Regions from separate parts of the Homo sapiens genome. Here region 1 is linked to region 2. Evidence: fine-mapped expression QTL. Tissue or cell type: subcutaneous fat. Region 2 holds a variant in brackets; the other region holds the start of a gene. All regions are shown on one strand. Distances are between the middles of the regions.

Region 1 (8,186 bases), 44 kb after region 2:
TACTCCACAATGGAGGTAAGGAAGAGTATGCATGGAATACAGAAGATCCATTAGGGCATCTCTTAGTATTACCATGCCCTGTGATTAAGGTCAATGGGAAGCTACAACAGCCCAATCCAGGCAGGACTACAAATGGCCCAGACCCTTCAGGAATGAAGGTTTGGGTCACTCCACCAGGAAAAAAAACCATGACCTGCTGAGGTGCTTGCTGAAGGCAAAGTGAATACAGAATGTGCAGGAGAAGAAGGTAGTCATTAATACCAACTACGACCAAGTGACCAGTTGCAGAAATGAGGACTGTAATTGTTGTATTTCCTCCTTCTTTTATTAAAAACATGTTTGTGATGTATACACTTGTACTAAGAAAACATCTGCATTTTATTTCCTTTATCATGTGACGTAAGATTTACTGACTTCATATCAGCATTTAAGTATTGCTACCTTTATGTAATAGCACTTGGGTTGGGGATTAGTGTGTTTCGGTTGCATGAACGATACTTGTATTATGTTAAGCATAATTATGACCTTATTGTCTTTATTTGAAGATTATGTATGATCTCAGGAGATGTGTATGGGTTCAAGTTGACAAGGGATGGAGTTGTGATGGTTAACAGCTAGGTCCAGCTAGGTGCCTGGCCCATGTTGAAGGCTTCCCATCCTGTGTTAACACAGTCACCAGAAGTCCCTAGCTCCAAACACTTGAAACGGACACTTGACAGCTGTTACCTCAAAAACATCATTTCATTTCTCTGAGCCTTTATTTCTGGATCAATACAATAATACTTCCCACCAGTAACAGTCGTTAAATTTAAAGAGAAAGTATTCAATGCTCAGTGTGCTCTGGGATTTTTATTAATGTGTCAACTTGATTGGATTGAAGGATGCAACGTATTGATCCTGGGTGTGTCTGTAAAGGTGCTGCCAAAAGAGATCAACATTTGAGTCAGTGGGCTGGGAAAGGCAGACCCCCCCCTTAATCTGGGTGGGCACCATCTAATCAGCTGCCAGCGAGGCCAGCATATAAAGTAGGCAGAAATACATGAAAAGACTAGACTGGCCTAGACTACCAGCCTACATCTTTCTCCCATGCTGGATGCTTCCTGCCCTCGAACATTGGACACCAAGTTCTTCAGCTTTGGGACTTGGACTGGCTTCCTTGCTCCTCAGCTTGCAGACAGCCTACTGTGGGACCTTGTAATCATGAGTTATTACTACTTAATAAACTGTCCTTTTTATATATATCTATTCTATTAGTTCTGTCCCTTTAGAGAACCCTAATCCAGGTGGCCACTCTTGTCTTGAACTCACTAAGGCAGAAAAAGCCATAGAGAATAGACGTGACATGAGCAGACCCAGACAGAGAAGCCAGGACACCATCGTGGTGGTTCTCAGTTCCTACACCAGCCCCTCATGAGGCACAGCTGAAAATTACCTTTGAGTTTGCAAAACACCCCATTTCCTTTTACCACCTTCTCCTTTGGCTGGGAGCCAAAGAGTACCCTGTCTTTAGCCCAGAGATATAGGAGACCAGATAGGAAGAGGTTACTGTGGAAAATGACTAAAGCTGTGGGAAAGAGGCAAGGTAGATTCTAGAGGCCTTCTTGTGCAGCCAGGCCTGGAGTCAGAAGATGGAATGAAGGAAGTGGCAGGTCACCTGCATGGTGGAGGGGGAAGGAAGGCCTTACCCAGAGACACCAGGAGCCCACAGTTTTCCAGCATCACCTCCTGGTACAGGGTCCGCTGAGCTAGGTCCAGCTGCCCCCACTCCTCCTTGGTGAAAGTCACAGCCACATCATCAAAGGTCACAGACACCTGGAAAGTCAAACAGAATTAGTAGTATTGGCCTTTCAGCTGCTGAATGAGATCACAGACTGTGCTCCACTGGAAAAGGTGTACAGTGATGGCGGCCTGAATCACAGAGCACCTCCTGAGGGCCTAGCTCTGTGCTGGGCTCAAGAGGGAAGATAGATGCTTTTAACATAATACCAGAGTAAAGGAGAGAAGCCTCCTATTTAACGGCCGTTAGAGAATGACACAGGACAACGGAAACAACTTGTGGACTGTGAAATACAGAAGCTAAGGGCTCTAAAACGACAGGGAAATGGGGAAATGGTAATAATAGCAATAATGGTTACAACGGCAGTACCTGAGTCTCACTGGTCCAGCTAGGTGCCTGCCCCATGTTGAAGGCTTCACATCCTGTGTAAACACAGTGACTAGAAGTTCCTAGCTCCAAACACTTGAAACTGACACTTGACAGCTCTTACCTCAAAGACAGCATTTCATTTCTCTGAGCCTTGATTTCTGGATCAATACAATAACACTTCCCACCAGTAACAGTTGTTAAATTTAAAGTATTCAATGCTCAGTGTGCTCTGGGATTTTTATTAATCCTTTCACAGTCCCTGCAGTCAACACCATCATCACCTTCACAGTCAATGACTTCATGCTAAGGAAGCGCTATCAATTCACCCAGTCACACATCTCACCACCATAGATAGGATCTAAACATGGGGTTACTATGATTCACGGTCTAACAGTGTAACTCCAACACTCCCCCAACATCAAAGCAAATCTAATGCGATGAAGTTATAAGCATTTCCACTCATTTCTAACATTAAGTCTATTTCAATTAGCCCTGAAAAACGTATCTGTGGGCCGGGCATGGTGGCTCATGCATGTAATCCCAGCACTTTGGGAGGTCGAGGTGGGCGGATCGCTTGAGGCCAGGAGTTGAAGACCAGCCTGGCAAATATGGTGAAACCCAGTCTCTACTAAAATACAAAAATCAGTCAGGTGTGGTAGTGCATGCCTGTAATCCCAACTACTCGGCAGGCTGGGGCAGGAGAATTGCTTGAACCTGGGAGGCAGAGACTGCAGTGAGCTGAGAGTGCACCACTGTACTCCAGCCTGGGCGACAGAGTGAGACCCTGTCTCAAAACAAAAAAAAGTATGTGAACACGGGCACAAAAAGCTCAGCATTCCTCACTGACCCCACAGAGCGGCACTGGAAGGGCTGCATCTACTTGGGGAACGACAGGCTCCAGACCAGCTTCCCATGCCCTCTGGGATCTCCCTGGGTCTCCCAGATCCCCCAAGGAAATTCCACAATGAACCAACCATCGGCCTCTTTCCTTACTGGGTTCCGACAGAACTTGTCTCTGACGCCAGGATACTTTGGGGCCACGGAACACGAGCGGCCAAGGATAATGCAGGCTGTAGCGATGAGAGTAAGGGCATCTGACTGGCCACAATGTCTGCAGTAGTTGCGGATGGCTAGAACATCCAGGAAAAGACCACACACTGTTGCCCTCCACGTCTCAGCGGCCGCAGGAAAACCATGGCAACCTTACACACCCTCCTGAGCCTCCTTAAACATACAACATACCTTGTCTCTGCTCGCGCATTTGTCGGCTTGCTACTGCCCTGCCCTCCCCTTCCCCCCTCAGGCCCCCAATTCATGCTGGAATGAGACCTGGTCCACCAGAGAATGCTTGCAGGCCAAGGATGATGGGAGTCCCCAGAGGAAGCATCATTCACTCAACAACCTACGGAGCTCCTTCCAGTAGGCCCAACACTCCTTACGGCCAGGTATAAATTAAGTGGCAAACCAGCTCCACACACCAAAGCGAACGACGACTGCGAAGACAAATCCAGGGGATACCTGGGCTCCCACCCACTTCGGAAACCGCCTCAGCGCTGGCAAGGAAGCGGCAACCGCGAAGCCACCGTCCACTCACCTGGGCCCGGTCCGTCAGCACCGCTGCCGCCATCACGTCACCCCCTGGGCCGCAGAGCTGGGACAGAGGAGCCCCGGGCGGCCTGACGGACCCCACCTGTGCCCGACCCTGGCCGGTTGCCCGGGGCTTCCAGGCGCGCTCGGGGCCGCCGCCTCCTCGGTGGCAACGGCGTTCCAGACGCAGGGCCGCCGCCTCCTCGGTGGCAACCGCGTTCCAGACCCAGGGCGCCGCCCCTGGAGACCGCGGGGCTGAAGGGCGGGGGAGGAGAGACCGCAGCTTGACGGCGACCCAGGAACAAACCCACGGAAGGGGTCAGGCTCGTACAAAGGTGCGGCGGGGATTCCTATCCTACTCCCCTGCTCGGTCCTGACTAGGGACCTGCAAAGCGGCCCCGACCGGGGCCCTCAGTGGCTACAGACCTCTCCAGACAGAAGTGCAGAAGAAAATGGCGTCCGCAGCGAGCAACCCGGAAGTCCCGCCCCCACCGGCGTGAGCCGTCGGAAACGTCCCCGTCCTAGGCCGTCGTTGGCCCAGCTCCCGCCGTACGCATAATGCACAGCCTTCTAAGTAGTGTAGTTTTCCTCATGTGTTCAACAACGGGAGGAACGCTTCACGGCGCAAGTTTTCCTCCCAGGGAAAGGCACTCCAGGACCCGAGGAGACGCTCCAGACCCACCTCTTTACGGTGGGCACAACTCGAGGGGAAGGATGGAGGGAGGGAACCGAGGGGCAAGGGTTACATTGCATTCTTCTCTCGGGAAAATCGGAGCTCGGGAGACAGGGACTTTCCTTCAGGTCAGGGCACAGGCAAAGGCGCAGAACTGGGTCCTCAGCTCGCCTGGCGACTGACCCCCTTTCACATCCCTCCTCCCCGGATCATCATCTTGGAAGACACAAAAAAGCCGAATGATCATCTGGAAGCCCTGCCCCGACACGTTGTGTGCGCAAACTGCCCTCTTTTGAGCCTTCTTTGGACCAGCACAGCCTCTACGTGATGCAGGGAGTCATGTATTTGGCCCAGACCACACAAAAAGTGGATTTGCCCACTTCTGAGGTGGGGAGGCTGCAAGTGGAGGAGGTTCGGAGGCTCAGGATGGTTAGTTTGAAATGTCTACAGAACCACAAAGTATCTCTGTCACAGGCAATTCGACTTACGACTGAATGTTGGAAGAAGGTTTGAGCATGAATATATGAATTTAGGAGTTACCTTACACTGTTATTTCAAGTCATGATATTGAGTGAGACCATCAAGGCAATGCATGTAGATGGAGAAGAAAATACACAGAGCATGAGCCGGGGACCAAGTCTACATCATTAAATGGTTGATGACAATATTACCAGAAAGGCCAGGTCCTTGCATCTAGATCCTGCTGCTTGCTGCACAGAAGGCCAGTCAGCAAGACAATGAGTATTGTCAGGGATGAAGGCTTTATTCGGTGCTGCAGCTGAGGAAAATGGGAGATCAATCTCAAATCTCTTTCCTCAACTGACTAAAACTAGGGGTTTATACATCAGGGAAGAAGTGTAACTATGTTTGAGAAAACAGGAATTAGGAAGGGGTAAGGAAGAGGAATGGGTCAACAGGCAGCAGATGGTCAGTTAGGCAATCATCATGGGTAAGGGGTATAGCATCTCGTTTTTCCAGATGTGGTAATCCAGTAAGTTTCAGTTTCTTTATACTATCTGGGAGGCCTGATGCTTGGTTTCCTGAGAAAGGAAATCAGATAAGACAAATAAAAGTGTCTCGAGTTTTAGGAAGGGGAGGCTCAATGTCTATAATGTGTTGATTCAAAAGAAACCATAAATATCAGTTCTATGGGACACTGGAGCTGGTTTCAGTTCCCTGTTTCTATTTATCAATTCCTCAATCATGGGGAATCTGGACGTGATCTTTCTGGCTGCTTTATGCTGAGGAGGGGTATTGTGGGTGGCTGCATACCATAGATGACCACGTGGCCACTCAGATTAACTCAAAGGTTAATCTAACGCTATAGTTTTCTTTCTTTCTTTCTTTTTTTTTTTTGAGACAGAGTTTTGTTCTTTCACCTAGGCTGGAGTGCAGTGGCACGATCTCCGCTCACTGCAACCTCTGCCTCCTAGGTTCAAGCGATCCTCCTGCCTCAGCTTCCCGAGTAGCTGGGATTACAGGTGCCCACCACCATGCCTGGCTAATTTTTGTATTTTTAGTAGAGACGGGGTTTCACCATGTTGGCCAGGCTGGTCTCAAACTCCTGACCTCATGATCCGCCCACCTCAGCCTCCCAAAGTTGAGCCACTGCACCTGGCAGCACTATAGTTTTCTTTGGAAACAGTTTTTCTCTCTCTAGTCCCTGACTTCCATCAAAAGCAAATCACAGCAGGAACAACTTACCTGCAAAACAAGCTTCAGTCCCACCATACTTATCCAAACTACAGCAAGAATCACTGTTTATACAATTCCTCCTAAATTGGCTTTGCTGGAACCCCTCATAAGGAATCTCTCAGACTCAACACCCAAAGACCTCTTAAGCCCAGCCAAAGATCTGTCTGCACCTGTACATACCTGCATGAATTGGGTGAAACCCGTTTTTCTTGAGGCCCCAGAACATCTTGAGGTTCCTAGGCCTATCAGAAAATGACACTGTATTTACTACAGGCCAGGAACCCCACAAAGGAACTGTGTGCACAAGATATGAGGCCAGTCCTTCCAAGGGCTCCCATCAGCTCCATAAAGTCAGTCTTTTTTTTTTTTTTTTTTTTTTTTTTTGAGACACAGTCTTGCTCTGCCGCCCAGGCTGGAGTGCAGTGGCGTGATGTCAGCTCACTGCAAGCTCTGCCTTCTGGGTTCGCGCCATTCTCCTGCCTCAGCCTCCTGAGTAGCTGGGACTACAGGCGCCTGCCACCACACCCGGCTAATTTTTTATATTTTTAGTAGAGATGGGGTTTCACCATGTTAGCCAGGATGGTCTCGATCTCCTGACCTCGTGATCCACCCGCCTTGGCCTCCCAAAGTGCTGGGATTACAGTCATGATCCACCACGCCTGGCCCATAAAGTCAGTCTTAATTCCTCAAAGCAGTCTCGCATAGTTAAAAATATGCCATTCCTGTCAAAGCCTTGGGAAAAGACCCAGTGCCTACAATTGTGTTATAAAATAATATGGATTTTAAAAAATAGAGATAGGGTCTTGCTTGTTTACCCAGACTGGAGTGTAGTGGCACGATCATAGCTCACTACAGCCTCAAACTCCTGGGCTCAAGCGATCCTCCTGCCTCAGCCTCCCAAGTAGCTAGAAAACAGATTCTTATTGAACATATGCTACACCTAGCTAGAAAACAGATTCTTATTGAACATATGCAAACAACCACATTGCCGTGAATTAAGAATATTCACAAATAGTTTCTGAATTCTGGAGAAATCAGGCAGAGAGAGAAATAGCCCTCAAATTTTGTTTACAAATGTATATTCAATTGTTAAAGGCTATAAATAGCTGGAAAGAAAAAAGTTTCATAGAGACAGAAAGTAGATTTACAAAAAAAGTTCTCCTGACTCAAAAACAAAACAAAAAGAATCAGCAATGTTTCAAACACACACAAAAAATAATAAAATAAATTCAGTACTTGAAATAAATCTCTGTGTTTGTGTGTGTGTGTTCCATTTCTCCCTAATTCCATTTCTCAACTGCATGAATCCTTAACTCATGAAAGATACTTTTTACCCTCTTGGCTCCACAGTTAATGGAGAAAAAAAAATCATCAACAGTGACTTCTAAGATGGCTTAATATACTATATAATAAAATATTTTTATTTATCATGAAATAAATTAGTACAGTCCATGAAACTCCTGCTCTGCTTCATATTGCATAAACATATGTATACATAATTATGTATTTTATGAATATATCAGCCTTCTAATTAGAGTCCTGGAAGTTTTCTCTCTAGGCTGATAGGACAATCTCCAAAGTTACCAGAAACTTGAATTCAAGTGTTCTTTTTATGAACTCTCTCAAAGAAGCCCTGAACTGTAGCTGACTGTAAGCCACCTTTGGAGAAGACTCAAAGTCAAACAATAATTGTGGATGACAAAAGTCTTAGGACAACCATAGTTAAAAAACAATGGACAAGGAAATTTGGTTATTTCTGTGACAAACGATTATGACAAATGTACTTTTCTCAAGTTTTAAGAGTGGGAGGGTCAATTTCTAGGTTCAGTCAAAAGAAACCACAAACATCAGTTCTATGGGACAACTGGGTTGGTTTTCACAAGAAACTGACAAGCTCACATTAGGAGTTCTAACTGTCCTCCCAGAAAGGTATATTAAGCAATCTTAGAAGTCACTATTGATGATTTTTATTTTCCATTAACTGTAGAGTCAAGAGGATAAAAAGTATCTTTCATGAGTTAAGGATTCATGCAGCTGAGAAATGGTATTAGGGAGAAATGGAATACACACGCGCGCACACGCGCA
Region 2 (8,186 bases):
ATATATGCACATATATATTTATATATATATTTATATATATATTTTTTGAGACAGGGTCTCGCTCTGTTGCTCAGGCCATAGTGCAGTGGCGCGATCACAGCTCACTGCAGCCTCAAACTCCAGGGTTCAAGTGATCCTCCCACCTCAGCCACCCAAGTAGCTGGGACTGCAGGCACGCACCACCACGCCCAGCAAATTGAGGGTTTTTTTGTTTTGTTTTGTAGTTTTTGTAGTCAGTTTCACCATGCTGCCCAGGCTGGTCTTGAACTCCTGTGCTCAAGTGATCCACTCACCTTGGCCTCCCAAAGTGCTGGGATTACAGGCATGAGCCACAGCATCCAGCCTACTCAAAAAAAATTTTTAATTAGCTGAGCATTGTGGCACACCCCTGTAATTCCAGTTACTCAGGAGGCTGAGATGGGAGGATCTCTTGAGCCCAGGAGGTCGAGGCTGCAATGACCTGTAATTGCACCACTGCACTCCAGTCTGGGCAATAGAGCAAGACCCTGTCCAGCTGGGACATGTTGCAAATGCATTGTCTCTCTTGGGCCTTCTTTGGCCAAGCTTGGTCTTCACATGGTCCAGCAACTTTTGCTTTAGGTATTGGCTGAGAGCCCTGGTAGAGTAGATTTGACATTCCTTAACGTGGGGAGTCTTGGACTGGGTGAGCTCATGACTCCAACTTTAAGCATGATCAGTTTGAAATGTCTGTATGACCACAGAGTGTCTGTGTCACAGCAGTTCAATCTCTGACTGAATATTGGGAGAGAAGTTGTGCCTGGACATAAAAATCTGGAAGTTTTTGGCAAACACTGTTATTTCAAGTTATGATACTGGACAAGACCATGAAAAAAAATGAGCATAGATGGAGAAAGGAATGGAAAGAGGTGAACATTGTTAAACAAAAATTACAGGAGGCCATTGTTTTGGAGCTCCTACAGCAGGCCTCACTGACCAAATCAAAATGGCGTCTCTCATACTAAATGTCATCTAATCAAACTGAAGTTTTAAGGAAGCAGACAGATCCCAGTTTTTCCTAAAAGCAGATTTCAGTCTACCTGAATTAGTGAAATTAGGAAGTCCCCTCTGCTTTAACCCTTAGAAAAAGTAATCTGTTAACCAATCAGCTTTTTTTTCTATTGTTCTATTTTATTGTTCCCACCTTACAAAACCCACTGTTCTGCCATTGCCCAGTGGGAACTCTAATTTCTATTGTGTAGAACAGAGATTGCCTCAATTCATGAATCACAAACAAAAGTCAATTAGATCTAAAACTAAATTTGTTGTAATTTTGGCCTTTTGACAACCCTGAACTAACTGGTTGCAAACAAGAAAGCAACAAAGTCATGTTAGGGTCATAACAATCTTTTAAGAATTATACAGGCCGAGTGCAGTGGCTCACGGCTGTAATCCCAACACTTTGGGAGGTAAAGGCGGGTGGATCAGCTGAGGCCAGGTGTTTGAGACCAGCCTGGCCAACATGGTGAAACCCCGTCTCTACTAAAAATACAAAAATTAGCTGGGCATGGTGGCGGGTTCCTGTAATCCCAGCTACTTGGGAGGCTGAGGCAGGAGACTCGCTTGAATCTGGGAGGCGGAGACGGCAGTGGGCCGAGATCGGGCCAGAGAGCAAGATTCCGTCTCAAAAAAAAAAAATCATATTATACAAAACCTTTGTAGTCTCCGTTGGTGACTGTTTTTTTTCTTCTCATGACTATGAAGGTTAGAGAATAAAATCCAGCTTTCAATGATTTGACAATACATATGGTTATGAAAATGGAAACAAGGTGTGCAGAAAATGCCCTCCAGAGATTTGAAAGTGGAGAAAGTATCATGACAGGATGTTAACTGGGTGGAAATGTAGATGGAATCAATTTTCTAGAAGGTATTATTTGTAAAATGAGATTATTGAGAAATGTTGCTTAATTAGCGTGCAAGCTGTTGACACTGTTACTCATCATTGACAATACTAATTTGCCCAATTTAGAAGAGAGGAATAATTCTCCTTTCCATATGTGTATGACCCGTAGGGTTAAATTAGTTTTCGCTTTGGATGCAGAACAGATATTAAAGTTAGTATATTTATATTCCATCATGGAATGTCTGGAATCAGTGCTGCTGAAGAAAGCTATGTAGATATTGGTGACAATTTTTTTTTTTTGAGACAGAGTCTCACTTTGTTGCCCAGGCTGGAGTACAGTGGCGCAATGTCGGCTCCCTGCAACCTCCACCTCCCAGGTTCAAGTGATTCTCGTGCCTCAGCCTCGCAAGTAGCTGGGATTACAGCCACCATGGCCAGCTAATTTTTGTATTTTTCAGTCAAGACAGGTTTTTACCATGTTGGTCAGGCTGGTCTCGAACTCCTGACCTCACATGTTTATCTGCCTGCCTCAGCCTCCCAAATTGCTGGGATTACAGGTGTGAGCCACTACGCCCGGCCTGGGGACACTTTCAAATCCCTCATGTAAAGCATGACAGAGTTTTCATTATTTAAACATATATCATCTGGTGATCAGTGCTGAGGCCCTAGTGATTTTTCTATCCTTACCTGCCAAAAATGTGCCCAGTGATGTGTTTATCCAGCACCTAAAATGTGTAAGAGTTTATATGTGTGAACCAGTTAATTTATTAGGAATTGCCAAGTGTTTAAAATGTTAATTCAGGAAAACTGATAGGATGAAGCAAAGCATATAGAGGTAAGCACTGTGTCTCCCCATGCAGGTAAAAGAAAGAAAAAACAAAAAAGAGGTAAATACTGAAAGTGCAGGTTAAAAACCATGAACCAATGTCTTGGAGTATTTAACTTATAGATCTGCAATAGTGGGAGCTTTTCATCCAAGTGAAGTGGCTGAGTTATTTATGCTTACGTAGTGGGTCTGGTCATAGCAGAAATCATGCCTGCAACTGCTGGATATTTCACAATGAGGAGACTTTGTAGAATATAATGATAGGAGTAACATTAACAAGGCAAACTCCATATAAAGTGCTTAACAACTAAAGTTAGGAGAAATACTGGTGTAACTGACTGCATTGATCAAAAAACATTTGAGCTTACAGCTGAGGAGTCTAGATGCTTACTGTGGTAGTCAGTTTATAATGGGTGCAGGGAGCAGCTGCCACATGAAGCTGTCACAGAAGGTTACAGAAGGCTGGAAGGCCACTCCCCAAATTGCAGCATGCAGTAATTTCAGAAGAGGTGATATTACATTTATTATGAGGAATGACTTATTCTAATGTCATCAGAGTGCAACACAACACAGAGGTGCTAGTGTATTCACTTAAGAAGTGGGTTGCACTGACGTGCAGTGAAACATTTTATTTCTGAGACAGCAGCATATTGATGTCCATAAAAAGAGAGTGGACCTTTGGGTTGATGACAGTCCTGTTTTACAAATGGCATACTCCTGAAAACATGGAGAATAGTAAGTTGGATCAAGGAGCCACTGTGATAGGTGGCAGGTTTATGTACCCTCAGGGAATTTATCTGCAGAAAGTAGACAAGAGTTTTCTTTCTTTTCTTTTGAGACGGTGTCTCACTCTGTCTCCCATGCTGGACTCCAATGGCACGATCTCAGCTCACTGTAGCCTCTGCCTCCCAGGTTCAAGCAATTCTCATGTCTCAGCCTCACAAGTAGGTGGGATTATAGGTGCCCGCCACAACGCCCAGCTAATTTTTGTATTTTTAGAAGAGACAGGGTTTTACCATGTTGGCCAGGCTGGCCTTGAACTCCTGAACTCAAGTGTTGCGCCTGCCTTGGCCTTCCAAAGTGCTGGAATTACAGGCGTGAGCCACCGTGCCTGACCTGAAAGTAGGCAAGAGTTTTCAGAAGAATGAAGTCACCATCTCCCGAGGTGGAAGGTGGGGGTAGCAGGGAGAACAACCTTGGGCAGCTCTCATGGGAAAGAGTTCCCACAAGAAATAAAGATTCTACCCAGTCACATAATAACTCACACAACTATGAAGAGCTGGTATGAAATGATTCAGCTTTTATTAATTAGCATCTTACATCTTAAAAGAGAAAAAAATAAAGACAAATGAGGTGGCAGAGCCAGGAGAGCTCCCTGAACACACACAAAGGGAACAGAGGCAGACAGGGCTCAGGAAGCCATCTGAGCACAGGGAGGCAGCACCCTTCGGGAGTGGGCCTGAACCCAGGGGTGCTTCAGGATCTGGGCCAGGGGCAGTCTCTCCAAGGGCTGGTATCTGAGAAGCCTGGAAATCAAGTCCCGGGCCCCCAGAGGCATTGATAGTGGAAACCTCACATCTACCTGATGAGGCCAGGAAAGAAGAAAGAGAAGTCTGGTTAATTTCTTTGATCAATGTCCTCCCTCTTCTTTGAGCCTTGTTAAGGCGCTGTTCTGGACCACAGAAGACAACCCTGTGTGTGTGTGTGCCCACAGCCCAGCAGCCATCACTGACCAGCTCCCCCATGAATGCCCAAAGGTGACTGTCCCACCTTGAGGATGCGTCTGTAAGTCTCACTGTGGGAGGCGCTCTCAAAGGGTGGATATCCCACCAGCAGCTCATAGCAGAGCACTCCAATGCACCACAAATCCACCTTTTCATCATATGTTCTCCCCTCAATCATTTCTGGCGGCAAGTAGTCCAGTGTCCCACACATTGTCTTCCTCCTAGAGGAAGGCAGAAAAGGGAATAAGTACTAAGCAGAGGCCCAGGATGAGGGAAATTCTCCTTCCCCAGCTTTCATTGAGATGTGGAGACCCTAGGACACCCTGGAAAGTCCCTCCCAAGCACAGGAGTTTGGAGAGACAAATTTTTAATATGGATCAAGGTTCAGAAAAGTACTGGGGCCTACTATTAATAAATCCATATTTTGGAATTATTCACACAGTGATTTAGCTCATGCTCCAGAATGTTTTCACAAGAATATTCTCAGCATTAAGAAAGATCTAGAACAAACTGATGGTGTATCAATGAGAGCCAAGTAAATAAATTATGGTAAGAAAATTTCTGTATGAAAATCATTCATACAGAAAAATGCACTCCTTTGGAATTGTGGAGCAATGACTTTATTTACATGCAAACTTACTGGTATAGTTATATATTAACAAAGATCAGAAAA[T/C]AAAAGGTTTGATTGGACCACATTATTTAAATCTACGAATACATATCAAGTATAGGTGTTTGAAAATGGCAGCATTGGCCAGGCATCGTGGCTCATGCCTATGATCCCAGCACTTTGGGAGGCCGAGGCAGGCAGATTACCTGAGGTCAGGAGTTGGAGACCAGCCTGACCAACATGGTGAAACCCGTCTTTACTAAAAATACAAAATCAGCCGGGTGTGATGGCCCATGCCTGTAATCCCAGCTACTTGGGAGGCTGAGGCAGGAGAATCGCTTGAACCTGGGAGGGGGAGGTTGCAGTGAGCCGAGATCACACTATTGCAATCTAGCCTGGGCAACAAGAGCAAAACTCTGTCTCAAAAAAAAAAAAAAAAAAAAAGAAAAGAAAAAGGCAGTAGTTCAGCCAGGCATGGTGGCTGACGCCTGTAATCCCAGCACTTTGGGAAGCCAAGGTGGGCGGATCACCTGAGGTCAGGAGTTCGAGACTAGCCTGGCCAACATAGCAAAACCCTGTCTCTACTAAAAATACAAAAATTAGCCGAGTGTGGTGGCACATGCCTGTTATCCCAGCTACTTGGGAGACTGAGGCAGTAGAACCGCTTTAACCTGGGAGGCCGAGATTGTGCCCCTGCACTCCAGCCTGGGTGAAAGAGTTAGACTCTGTCTCAAAAAAAAAAAGAAAAGAAAAGAAAAGAAAAAGGCAGTATTCCAATAGAAACCCCAAGTTCGTATCTAGGTTTTACACATGGACACATGAAATACATTAAACTGGGTCATTCCTAACTGGTACTCAGAACTCACCCTACCACCACCACCTGACCTACCTCAGGGAGGGGGTGTGCACAGACCAGCCAAAATCTGCAATCTTCACCTCACCCCTGAACCCCAGCAGCAGGTTCTCTGGCTTAATATCTCTGTGAATCACTTTCTTGTCATGGCAGTAGGTCAGGGCATCTGCCAACTCCTCTATTATCTGTGGGTGCAAAGAAAAGTCACCCTGGAAGTGAAGCCTGCCACAATTTCCGTCTGAGGTGGAACACTTACCATGAATTGTATGATTACAGTGGAATCTTTTTGGTCCAGTAACTCCATTTCCTCCTTTTAAATTGCACCAGTTACTGGTGTGTGGGGTGTGGTTTTCCTCTCCTTTTTATGTGGTCTTATAGGATGGATGGTAACATGGACACAGATCCTCCCTGTTGTCCTAGCACAGCAAGTAGCCAGACATAGAACCTACATTGAGCCACTCAGATGATCTCTCACAGGACTTGAGGCCCGAGGAAGTGAAACAGAAACAGGAGGAAAGATGGAAGACCACTCATCCTGACACAGCAAGCTGATTGGACCATTGCTCCTGGGAAAATCATTGCCATGGTTCCCTTTCCGGAACCCTCTAGAAATCTCTTTGTACCTATCTCTAAGCCAGTTCTAGCTATTTATTCAGTGAACTCCTTCAGAGCCTTTCAATATGTTTCTTTACATAAGGCAGTGGAGTTAGATTCTGTTGCTTATAACCAAAGAATCCAAACCTATACGCAGTACTTATTAATATTCTGGAGATACAATGAGGTTAATTAGGGTATCCAAGGATAAAGCTGTAGAACATACGTGCCATTATATTAAATTTACACAATAACATTCAGAAGTAAACTTCTCAGAAGGCAATGCGGACCCTCCTGACAGCCACAAACAGAGCTCCCACCAGCCCACAGTAAACTCAGAGACCCCAGAGCCTCCAGACCCGCACCTCACCGTGGCTGTGCGCTGTTCATCTAATTTCTCGCTTTTCTGCAGCTCCTTGTAGAGCTCACCCCTTGGAGCATATTCCAGAATCAGGTACACCCGGCGTGCATCATGGAAATAGTTATACAGGCGCAGGATATTGGGGTGTCTGAAGGATTAATGTTGGAAGAGTCAGATTTCTCCCTGAGGCCTATCATATGATGCCACCGTCACTGCCTGGTCACACAAGTGGCAAATTATGCTGGGACCAGAATAACAACAGCCCTATCTGGGAGCAAGTGAGGGGAGAACGGAGAACAGGAACCAGGATTCGAGTGTCTGACCCAGGGTAGGAGGTAGTGTAAATGGAATGAACTGCAGAGAAGTCTTCAAGGTACAAGTGCAGGGTTTACTTGGGGTTAGTATTTGGGGAAAATGCTGGGCTCAGACGTCAAAGATGAAAGAGGAAGCAGAGACTGTCCTTACTGTAGATGAGCCTGGATCTCAATTTCCCGGCGCAGCTGGTGCTCCAGTCCTTCCTTCTCTATCTGCGACTTGAAGAGAACCTTCAGGGCCACAATGAAATGGCTTTCCTTGAGCCGAGCCAGGTACACATTCCCAAATTTCCCCTTGCCCAGGGGACGCCCGATTTCAAAGTCATCGACTGTGAGGCGCCGCCTGACAGGAGAGGAAGAAAAAAGCCTCAGCTTGGGAGGTAGGGTAGGCGGAGGGAAAGTCAGGGATGCCAATGCTCCCCTTCCTCTTTCATTGTATCCTTCCTCTGCCGCTTTCCCTTCTCACACAGACCCAGCCCTATCAGTAGTTCTCGTTCCCAGGAGCCAGCACCCCACACACCCAGTCTGTTCTTCATCCCCACGTCCCACCTTCCTTCCTTTTCCAGATACCAATCCCAAGGGACTCACATGGCTGGGCTGCTGGGCTGCTGGGCTGTTTGGTTTGCTGTAGCCACTGAAAGAGAGGAGGAGGAGGGAGATAGGAAGGGAGAGGGGAGGGAAGGAGAAGGGGAGAGAAAGAGAGGAGAGGAGAACAGTAGAGAAGGGAATAGGGAGCGAGAGGTGAGGGGAAGAAGGGGAGGAGAGAAAGAGAGGGAAGGGGAAGGCAGGGAGAGGGGGAGGGAGAGGTAAGGGGAAGAAGAAAGAGTAAGGTAAGGTAGGGAGGGGAGGAGGAGGTGAAGAAGAGGCAGAGAGAAAGGAAGGGGAGGAGAGAGTAGGGGAGGGAGAGGTGAAAGAAAGAATTGGAGGGAAGGGAGGGAGTGGGGAGAAAAGAAGAGCGTTGGGGAGGAGGAGAGGGAGGGGAGATGTCAACACATGTGTCTTCTGTGCACCCGACCCCTGGCCCAGTCCCCAGCCTTCCCTGCGTC

The links. PIP is the estimated chance that this variant, and not a neighbour inherited with it, causes the effect.
Region 1: it holds the start of ZNF264, and the variant in region 2 is fine-mapped to the expression of ZNF264 in subcutaneous fat (GTEx, PIP above 0.99).

The regions. Positions count from the first base shown.
Region 1 is chr19:57,187,501-57,195,686 of GRCh38, reverse strand. ZNF264 (zinc finger protein 264) reads right to left here and starts at 4,187. Exons shown (of 4, transcript NM_003417.5): 1 at 3,741-4,187; 2 at 1,686-1,812. The coding sequence starts at 3,773. RefSeq lists a silencer at 3,672-3,941 and enhancers at 4,112-4,171, 4,182-4,271, 4,292-4,351.
Region 2 is chr19:57,231,330-57,239,515 of GRCh38, reverse strand. AURKC (aurora kinase C) reads right to left here. Exons shown (of 7, transcript NM_001015878.2): 2 at 7,729-7,774; 3 at 7,292-7,483; 4 at 6,836-6,974; 5 at 5,908-6,056; 6 at 4,458-4,632; 7 at 3,968-4,269. The coding sequence ends at 4,099. Among named protein-coding and RNA genes, the nearest start is that of AURKC, 4.4 kb to the right of the region's middle. The variant T/C (reference allele first, on the strand shown) is at 5,085.